Linked DNA regions of Homo sapiens. The protein of the gene in region 2 purifies or fractionates together with the protein of the main gene of each other region. This does not show direct contact. Each region holds a gene or a part of one and is shown on either strand. Other genes may lie near its edges. The genes, in order: CRCP, RBM26 and SRFBP1.

Region 1 (3,737 bases), on a different chromosome or scaffold from region 2:
AATGTAGTAAGAAACATAAATTTACATAATCAAGAAGCTCAGCAAAAATAAACTGGGGAAAAAAAAGCTGAAATATATCATTATCAAATTATTGAAGACCAAAGACTTGAAAATCTTTTTTGAAATTTATTTAAATTTTTTTTTTTTTTTGAGACGGAGTCTCGCTCTGTCCCCCAGGCCGGAGTGCAGTGGCGCATCTTGGCTCACTGCAAGCTCTGCCTCCCGGGTTCACGCCATTCTCCTATCTCAGCCTCCCGAGTAGCTGGGACTACAGGCGCCCGCCACCATGCCCAGCTGATTTTTTTTTTTTTTTTTTTTTTTAGTAGAGACGAGGTTTCACCGTGTTAGCCAGGATGGTCTCGATCTCCTGACCTCGTGATCTGCCAGCCTCGGCCTCCCAAAGTGCTGGGATTACAGGCGTGAGCCACCGCGCCCAGGCTAGTGAAGTGAAGCAGTAGGAGTAGAGGGGGATAAAAAAAATCTTAACAGCAGCCAGAGGAAAATGACACATTAGGGTTAGAGTGATAGCGGATTAAAATTTTTTTTTAATTAATTATTTTTCAAAATATAGAGATGGAGTCTCACAATGATGCCCAAGCTGGTCTCAAACTCCTGGCCTCAAGTGATCTTCCCGCCTCAGCCTCCCAAAGTGCTGAGATAATAGGCATGAGCCACTGCATCCAGCCTGATCACAGATTTCTAATCAAAAACTGTGACAGCCAGAAGTCACTGAAATGACATCTTAAAAGTTCTGAAGGAAAAGATCAATCAACCCAGTGAAATTATCCTTCAGGAATGAAAGGAAATAATGACATTCTCAGCTAAATGAAAATAAGAGAATTTGTAGCCAAGAGACCTGTTCTCAGAAAAGTGCCAAAGGCAGTTCTTCCTGGTGAAGTAAATGATAAAAAGGACGCAGGGCACTTCAGGAATAGAGAGGAAAAGAAATGATGACAAAAAGACTATTTTTGTTCTCTTAAGTTCTTTAAAATATGTAAGAATACAGAAAGTCAATGTAAAAACACTACTAATAGTATGCAGATTATATGTTTCAATGTATGTAGATTATATGTTATAAATACAACCATAACACAAAAAGAAGGTAAAGAGACTTATATACACCAACTGGTAAAATATTAACTCTGGACTATAAATGGTCAGGCATGCATATTATTAACCCTACTAGTAACCTAGTAGGGATCCCTTCAGTAACTACTAAAAACAAAAATAAACAAAAAGATACAGCCAAAAGGCTACAAATCTTTTTAGCTTTATAGATATAGAAAAAGCAAGTGACAACATTCAACATCCAATCTCAGCAATCTGAACTTCCTAAACCTGGTAAAAGACATTCATGGAAAACCTAAACTAGCATCATACTTAATGGTGAAGGACTGACTGTTTTCCCTTAATATCAGGGACAAGATGAGGATGTCTGCTCTCACCACTCCTACTCAACATCATCCTGGAGGCCCCAGCCAGGGCAATGAAATAAGAAAAAGAAGGAAAAGCCATACAGATGAGAAAGAAGTAAAACTCTGTTTGCAAATACCACGACTTTCTGCACAGAAAATCCTAAAGAATACACTAAAAAAGTTCCTAGAACTAATAAGTGGATTTATCAAGGCTGGAGGGCATAAGATCAATATAAAGTCAGCTGTACTTCTATATCAGCAATCAACAACTAGAAATGAGCACCATTTACAATAGCACGCAAAATTATGAAATAGGTATAAATCTAAAAAAATTTGTGCAGAACCTGTATGCTACACTGTTTTCATGGACTAGAAGGTTCAGTATTGGCGGGTTGTTTTTTTTTAACCTTTGACTGATCTTAAATTATTATTATTATTAAATTTTTTTTTGAGACAGTCTCGCTCTGTCGCCAGGCTGGAGTGCAGTGGCGCAATCTCGGCTCACTGCAACCTCCATCTCCCAGGTTCAAGTGATTCTCCTGCCTCAGCCTCCCGAGTAGCTGGGACTACAGGCGCCCCCGTCACCACACCCGGCTAATTTTTTGTATTTTTAGTAGAGACGGGGTTTCACCATGTTGGCCAGGATGGTCTTGAACTCCTGACCTCGTGATCCACCTGCCTCAGCCTCCCAAAGTGCTGGGATTATAGGTGTGAGCCACCGTGCCCGTCCGATCTTGAATTATTAATATTGTCAAGATGTCAATTCTCCCCCAAAACTGACCTATAGATGTAAGGCAATCCCAATCAGAATCTCAGCAGGATTTGTTCCAGATATCAACAAGTCAATTCAAAAATGTATACATAGGCCAGGCACGGTGGCTCACACCTGAAATGCTAGCACTTTGGGCAGCCAAAGCAGGAGGATCACCTGAGGTCAGGAGTTCAAGACCAGCCTGGCCAATAGAGTGAAACCCCATCTCTACTAAAAATACAAAATTGGCCAGGCACGGTGACTCACACCTGTAATCCCAGAACTTTGAGAGGTCGAGGTGGATGGATCACCTGAGGTTGGGAGTTCGAGACCAGCCTGATCAACATGGAGAAACCACGTCTCTACTAAAAATACAAAACTAGCCAGGTGTGGTGGCAGATGCCTGTAATCCCAGCTACTGTGGAGGCTGAGGCAGGAGGAATCACTTGAACCCGAAGGCAGAGGTTGCGGTGAGCCGAGATTGCACCATTGCACTCCAGCATGAACTCACAAGAGTGAAACTCCATCTCAAAAAAAAACAAACCAATAAAAAAAAAACGGGCTAGTTTTCTTCTCATGTAAACTCTTGATGTATGACGTTTTCAATTTTAAAAGGTTGAACTCATTCCAGACCAAGAAAAGGAACTGGAAACTACAAGAACTCACAGAAGATGATCAAGCCACTTTTGCCTCAAGCAAACACAAATGTCAAAAGACTTCACTGATCAACTTTATAAAAAGTACTTTAACTTGTCAACCCTACTTTTCATCCAATTTGGTCTGAATTCTGGGAGTGGGGTTGATGCGATATGTCATACAAACTGGGACTCCAAGAAAAGATTTTTTTTTTTTTTTGAGACAGAGTTTTGCTCTTGTTGTCCAGGCTGGAGCGCAAGGGCGCGATCTTGGCTCACCGCAACCTCCGTCTCCCAGGTTCAAGCGATTCTCCTGCCTCAGCCTCCCTAGTAGTTGGGATTACAGGCATGTGCCAGCACGCCCAGCTAATTTTGTATTTTTAGTAGAGATGGGGTTTCTCCATGTTGGTCAGGCTGGTTAGAACTCCCAACCTCAGGTGATCCACCCACCTCAGCCTCCCAAAGTGCTGGGATTACAGGCATGAGCCGCCACACCTGGCCAAGAAAAGATTTTTAAACCCCATTAAGATTTGTTCCTCATGGCACATGTATACATATGTAACAAACTTGCACGTTGTGCACATGTACCCTAGAACTTAAAGTATAATTTTGAAAAAAAAGATAAATAAATAAAAAAAGAAGGAAGAAAGGTCTTCTGCATTTACCCATTCAAACCAGGGTTAGTACTTGATTAATATAATATTTCAATTCTGTCTTGTTTTTTCCCCATTTCTACATTATCACATTTCCTTCCTTTCAAAACAATTTAACTTATTTTACTAATATTTTGAGATCAGCTCGTGACATTTAATGTTCTCAATAATTAGAGAAGAATTACTTTGGTTAGCCTAGAATATACTCACTTGTGTTTCTAAATTAGTAAGCTCATTTTCATCTAGATAATGGGAGGCTAGAGAGGTCCTGCTTTAAGAGTAG
Region 2 (3,737 bases):
GAAAACAAGAATAATTTCTCATAATAAAATATAGCTATTTCACTACTGGCCAATATTTGACTAAAAGAAATATGTCTACATGTTTATAACACAATGACAACTGCTGTTTAAGATGACAATCCCAAGGTACTTCAAGATCCTAGTTTTAATGTCTGAATCAATGTCTAAATTAGGATCAATATGCTAAATATATTTTATTTCAATTACTGTTCATTTACAAATGGTATATAATTATTAATCTTTAATAATAATTTTGCATGTGTAAAGTATATTATTTTCAAATTACATCAAATGACCAACTACCATAAAATGTTTATTATAAAACTAAAACAAAATATAAGTGTCTCAATGAAAGGAAAAAAAACCCCTCTGAACTCTTCTATTGAAAAACAGTTTTTCCTACCAAACTTTTATAACTGAATATAAAACGTGAACTTAAAAAATAGTCATGTCTAAGTACTTGCTATATTAAGTGGCTGGTTTGGAAACTGCATTCAAATTAGAGTAACATGAACTAAGGTAAATCAGTGTTAGCAACATATTGCCAAATAACTTATACTCACACAAGATTTATAATACAATCTCAAAGTACAGCATAATGTGAAATGTAGAAACAATTACATATTCAATGATATTTGACATAAGTTGTGTGGTATTAAAATCCCCAGGTATAAATTTTAAACCTGCACATATAAATTTATGATAAATTTAAAAGATTTCATGCCTGTTCAAATGCTGCTCAGAGAATTTTTGTCACAATGTCATACAACTAGAATTTTTTTAAAAAGTACTTATATGTATTTTAGTTCCAGGACAATTTGCAATTTTTTGAAGCTATCACTGTTACATAAAAATGTATCATATTCTATAAGGAATTCCAACTGTTTAATGCAAAATACCTACTCATAAAACTCATCCTTACATTCAGCTAAAAAAAATTCACCTAAAAAGCAAAAGAGTTACTGACATTTTCAAAAATAAGTTACTGACAAAAATTTCTGATGATCTAACTTTACACATCTCTATATTCAGCACACAGCTCCTCAAATCTATAAGATGAGGCTACAACTTTCTAAAGTTTCAACTTTAATTACAAAATGATTTACAAACTTTTTATTAACATTGCTCCATTACAAACTTGAGAATTAGGCTGTGTAAATTTTTGAAAGAACTGAGTTTTTGCTTTGTAAAGATGTAAATTTACTCAGGAAAACTAAGAACTTCTGATGTTATAAGAAACATATTCCATAATTACTTTCATTTTGATAAAACTATTGTTTTATATTAGAAAAGTTCAAGAAACCAATATTTCAGGTAATTGCAACATAAAATCTTTAAAGTTTAAACAATTCCTTCTGTAACCCACCCATTTCACTTTTTACAAAGATTCAAAATTTCAGGCCACGTAATGTAAAAAAGCAGTCCATGATTATCCCTAGCCCTAAGAGATAACCACTATTCTGTGAGGAATTCGGAGTTAAATCCTACATATATTTTTCTACACACATACTGAAAGAACTTCTGTATATAAATATGTATGGTATGTATACGGAAACATACTAGTTTATAACTTCATGGTTAAATTATTAACCCAATTCTTTTCATAAATATCTCTCGATGTCCATACCAATAAATGTCACTTTTCTTGAATGGCCATATATATTATATATTTAGCATAATTAAAGCAATTTCTACAGATATGAACAATCTTGTGTATTTGTACATCTTGTGTGACTTTCTATTAGAAGTGAAATGTTTGACTTTTTTCACAATCTGGCCTGCTTGTATTTTTCTAATTGAATGAAGTTTGGTGATATTTTGGGCAAAATATTTTCCCCGATTGGATTTTGATTTTATGATGCACCTTTTATTGGAGAGAAAGGGGTTGTTGTTGTTCTTTTGTTTTTGTCATCAACAAGTTTTAAATTTTTCATGTACTGGAATTTACCAATATTTTCCTTTATGAATATCGTGCCATACCTTAAAAAGCCCTCTCAATATTAAGACTATTTTTTTTAAATCCCTAGGATTTTACTATTTAAAAAAAAGAATTTTGTAGCATGTATTAAATGTTTTATGTATTAAAAAAAGAAAAAAAATTCATCCAATTTAATTTATTTGGATATTTAAAAAAGACATAATGCTGTCTTTTTTCCAAATAGCTAGTCAATTGCCCCAACATCATTTACTGAATAACTTGTTTTATTCCTTGATTTAAAACAACTCCTTTGTGATCCATTAAAATCCTCATAAAGTCAGCCACCACAGAACAATGTTTTGGTCAACAATGACTATATACAAAAGTGGTCCCCTAAGATTTTAATAAACCTGAAAAATTCCTATTGCTTAGTGACCTTATAACTATCATAATACATTACTCACATGGTGATACTGGTGTAAACAAACCGATTGTGCTGCCAGTCCAGTCATATAAAAGTATGGCACGCACAATTATGTACAGCATAATACTTGAATATGGTGGCAAACGACTGTTACTAGTTTACATATTTACTATACTATACTCTTTATCATTATTTTAGAGTGTACTCTAATTTTTTTTAAGTTAATTATAAAACAGCCTCAGGCAGTTTCCTCAGGAGGTATTTCAGAAGAAGGAACTGTTATCGTAGGCCTCAGCCTATAATACACACATTGCCTATGACAGCTGTGTGTGTGTTACTGCCCCTCAAGACTTTCCAGTGGGACAAGACGTAAAGGTAGAAAACGGTGATACTGATGATTCTGACCATGTTTAGACATAGACTAATGTATGTGTTTGTGTCTTAGTTTTTAATTAAAAGTTTAAAAAGTAAAACATAAAAAAATGTTAAAAATAGACAAAAGCTTATTGAATAAGGATATAAAGAAAGTATTTTTGTACAGCTGTGCAACGTGTCTGTTTTATGCTAAGTGGCGTTACAAGAGTCAAAAAGTTTTTAAAAATTGTAAAGTTTAAAAGTAAAAGCTAGAGCAAACTAAGGTTAATTTATTATTAAAGAAAGATAAAATGTTCTTATAAACTTAGTATAGCCTAAGTGTACAGTGTTTATAAGGTCTAAAGTACGAGTTTATAAAATACGATGGTAATGTTCTAGGCCTTTACATTCACTCACTAACTCACCCAGAGCAATTTCCAGTCCTGCAAATGCCATTCATGGTAGGTACCCCATACAGGTATACCATGTTTTATCTTTTATACCCTATTTTTACTGTACCTTTTCTATGTTTAGATATGTTTGCCTACACAAATACTTACCATTGTGTTACAAGTGCCTCAGTATTCAGTATAGTTAACACAATGCCAGAGTTTCGTAGCCTAAGACCAACGGGCTATATACCATAGAGTGTAGGTGTGTAGTAGGTTATATCATTTATGTTTGTGTAAATACACTCTGTGATGTGTACACAACAATGAAATTGTCTAACAACACATTTTTCAGGTCATATCCCTCTTAAGTGGCACATGATTGTATAAACTTAGGTCTATTTCTGAACTGTATTGTACTACATTATCTGCTTTGTACTGCTTTTAAACAGTACGAATAATTAATGCAAATAACTTTTTAAAGTATGCTATGGCAGTGCTTCAAGAGTTATGCATGTACTTTAAAATTCCATTAAAATATATTTTTAAAAGTGAACTGTATAGCCATTTATAAAATGTTAAGGAACACCATGTTTAAATGTGCTCTACAGGATGCCTACTTGGGCTAGGACGTAGTGGTCAAAAAGGTGAA
Region 3 (3,500 bases), on a different chromosome or scaffold from region 2:
AGAATAAAATTCCTAGAAGCAGACAGACTGATAGATGACAAACCACTGAGATTTAGCAGGTAGTCTACTATGAATAATACTAAAATTGGTACTCTGAAGTACCATTACAATAACATAAAAATTTGGCATTGGCTTAGCAGTTCAGTGGTGGGTAGCAAGGAAACAGATAACTGAGAATGAGAAGTAAGCAACCCATGTGCCAAAGAAATAGGTAAAACTGTTGTCAGTGATAACTTGGCAAGCAGGCCACAAGCCTATGGAGTTTGCTGTACAAAGGTAACTGGCTGGAAAGAATAAAAAGATCAGCGTATTACTGGCTGTCCTTGACAATGCACTACACAAAAGAGAACAGAGAGAACAAAAGAATCTAGATATTTGGGAACTTAAGGTTTAGAAAAGCCTTTGACTCCCAAACAGTAACCTGTAAGTCTAAGAAAAGTTGCCCACAGCAACTCAGCCCTAGAGCAGAGATAAGACTAAATGTATGGCACTCCCATCCAAATCTGATTAATTTTCAATGCAGTAGATGCTGAATGAGAGCGGGAAGTGGGAAAAATAAAACAAAACACAAACAAATAAGACAAGTTTGAGAACTAGCTCAAAGAAAGAATTTTCAGTACGGTAACTAGCCCACAGACGGACTGAAGGAAACAGAGGTCAGAAATCCACTGAGTTTTTGAGGAGGTGTATAGTGAAAGAAATCACAAGCCTGGGATGGAAAAAACCTCTGCTGAACTTTGTACAATCTTCATCATTTTATATTTGTACCAGTGACTTGGGGCAAACTCCAAAGAGATCATGTTAAATACCCACCTCAGATGTGGCCACGAAACAAAGACCCTCCCTAGACACGGACCATGAAGAACAATGGATAAAGAAGTTCCTCTCAGAGCCTTCATAATCTTTGCTCAGCAGAATTTCAGATAGTAGACCTGTTGTGTGCCTTCCATTTTTTCCTTAAGCTATCAAGAGTTTTTATTGTCATTACTTTGTCCCTGTTCTGCTACTCGATACATGGTATATCATGGTATGAATTTCTTTTTGGTACAAAGGTCACCAGACTTTGAAGAATCTCATCCATGAGATTTGATGGAAAATACTCCATGACCAGTGATCCTGGACTTTGAGCTAGATGCAGTGACTGGATGTGACTTTGGGTTGGCTGCCTTGGGAAGGAGGTAAGTGTGCTCTGTGTAGGAGGAAAAGTGAAATGGCCATCCAGTGATAGAAAGTCTGGTCACTGGAAGAAAAAGTTATGTGTTCACGAAATTCCACTTCCTCTTTTCTCCTAGATATATAGTAAGACTGCATTTCTTAGCTCCCCTGTGGCTAGATGGGGTCATGTGACTGAATTCTGGCTAATGATATGTGAGTAGAACTGGTTTCTGCTACTTTCAGGCCTTGCTCACAAACACCTGCAAAATTCTCCATGTACTCCATTCCCTTCTATTGGCAAATGGAGAATATTTGGAACCTGGAGGAGGAAAACGCCAAAAGATGGAAGAAGCCTGATCCTTGAATGACTATGTGGAACACAGCCTCTCTGCTAATTCATCACAGTGGACTGTGATGTGAATGAGAAATGAATTTTTGCTATGTTAAGTTAGTGAAAGTCTAGGATTGTGTGAGAAGTCACTCTACCCAAATACATGAAACTTAGATTTGTTACGAATTAATCTGAAAATATTCTGATTATACTCTTGCCCAAGAAAGTAATATACTTGTTATTCAATGTTTAACGGCATGGCATTAGCGTTTAGGATCACTAATAATTAAGATATAACTTGCATAATTTACTTAAAAAAAGTGTTGGTTTAATTTGAGATAAGTTAAATAGACATAATATTTCCTGATAAATTTTGTCTATATCTTTCCCTCTGGCAGGACACAGAAGAAAAGAAAACCAACAACAAAAAATTATATTGATAATTGTAAGATGCTCTGTTAACATTTCTGTGGGTACATAATTCATTCAGGCTATATTAAGCAACAACAATTTCTCATTCTTTTACTCTGGTAAAACATAGCTTAATTGCATATGAAGGTCAGGCAACTATGAATACATACCTAGGGATCTTGTTTTTGGAGCCTGTTCTTTGAAATTTCTAAAAGAAGAAAAACACCATTATGACTTTTTAAAGATAAATCCTCTGATCTTAAGAAAAAAACATAACAAAATTGATGATAAAACTAATTCAAAGGGCCACTATACTCCTTAGTCACACCAGCAAACAATAAAATAATTATGAAAGTCCCAGGTTGTAGCTGTATCAAACAAAGGTTTGTTAGAATCCAGTGTTACTACAGACACATGAGGACCTATTTCCCTCACCACCTTTAAAGAGAATTCTGTTTGTAATGGGAAATATCTTGTCTTGGTTACCTTGCCTTTACACTTCGGGATTATCTATATAAAGAATTTCTAAAGTCTTTTCACAGGAAGAATGACTCTCATATAACAAAAATTAAGATTTACATTTTGGCGGGGCACGGTGGGTCACGCCTGTAATCCCAGCACTTTGGGAGGCTGAGCAGGGTGGATCACAAGGTCAGGAGTTCGACACTAACCGGGCCAATATGGTGAAACCCGTCTCTACTAGAAAACAAAACAAAACAAAAAAAAAACAAAAATTAGCCGGGCGTGGTGGCATGCGCCTATAATCCCAGCTACTCAGGAGGCTGAGGCAGGAGAATTGCTTGAACCTGGGAGGCAGAGGTTACAGTGAGCCAAGATCACACCACTGCACTCCAGCCTGGGTGATAGAGTGAGACTCCGTCTCAAAAAAAAAAAAAAAAAAAAAAAAAAGATTTATATTTTGTGGTAAAGGGATAGTGGTGTGCCATTTTCAAATGTGGAAAAAAGTGCAGCTTTTTGAGGCAAGTTTGGAAAATATAAGTAAATATTTTAATTATTTCAACACTCCACACGTTTTTATGTCTTTGCCATACTGTGACATTTTTGAAAAATTTTTACATCACATTTTTCTATTTCATTAAAGACTATCCCTGACTTGTAAATATATGCAAAAACAGTTTATAGCTGTTACTGAAGAAATTAGCTAACCATAACCTTCACTCTAAAATGTGAAGATACCCTTTATCAAATTGGAATTACAAATAAAGTTAAACTTACTGTTTTATAACAGAACAGCTATGAAAAGTGGTGAGCAACAGAGATGGAGACAGCAACATCATCAAATAAAAAGCAGTATGGAGAAACTCAGTTTAAGGGCAAGCAGCCTTATATACTGAAATGGTACTAGACAGTAAAATGACTGATGTTTACAATAATGGTCCTGGATCATCAAGAAAAAACACCATATTCTTTTCAGAAAGTTCTGTTTAGAAAGATACATGAAACATTTTCAAAAGTTTTTCATCAAAAAAGATTTCAAAGTTTCAAAACTTTGATAAGTGAAGGAATAAAATTTAAATTAGCTGGCATATTATTTGGCTATAACATCTCATTTTCTGATGAAACTAGGCAAATGTGGCATTGC

What was found.
Region 1: the proteins of RBM26 (region 2) and CRCP fractionate together in Homo sapiens (co-fractionation; one large-scale study listed by BioGRID). This does not show direct contact.
Region 3: the proteins of RBM26 (region 2) and SRFBP1 purify together in Homo sapiens (co-immunoprecipitation; one large-scale study listed by IntAct). This does not show direct contact.

The regions. Positions count from the first base shown.
Region 1 is NC_000007.14:66,135,206-66,138,942, reverse strand, and holds part of CRCP (DNA-directed RNA polymerase III subunit RPC9), read right to left. Parts: intron 1-3,737. UniProt on the Homo sapiens protein: DNA-dependent RNA polymerase catalyzes the transcription of DNA into RNA using the four ribonucleoside triphosphates as substrates.
Region 2 is NC_000013.11:79,322,697-79,326,433, forward strand, and holds part of RBM26 (RNA-binding protein 26), read right to left. Parts: intron 1-3,737. UniProt on the Homo sapiens protein: May be involved in the turnover of nuclear polyadenylated (pA+) RNA.
Region 3 is NC_000005.10:122,020,975-122,024,474, reverse strand, and holds part of SRFBP1 (serum response factor-binding protein 1), read right to left. Parts: intron 2,106-3,500; coding exon 2,068-2,105; intron 1-2,067. UniProt on the Homo sapiens protein: May be involved in regulating transcriptional activation of cardiac genes during the aging process. May play a role in biosynthesis and/or processing of SLC2A4 in adipose cells.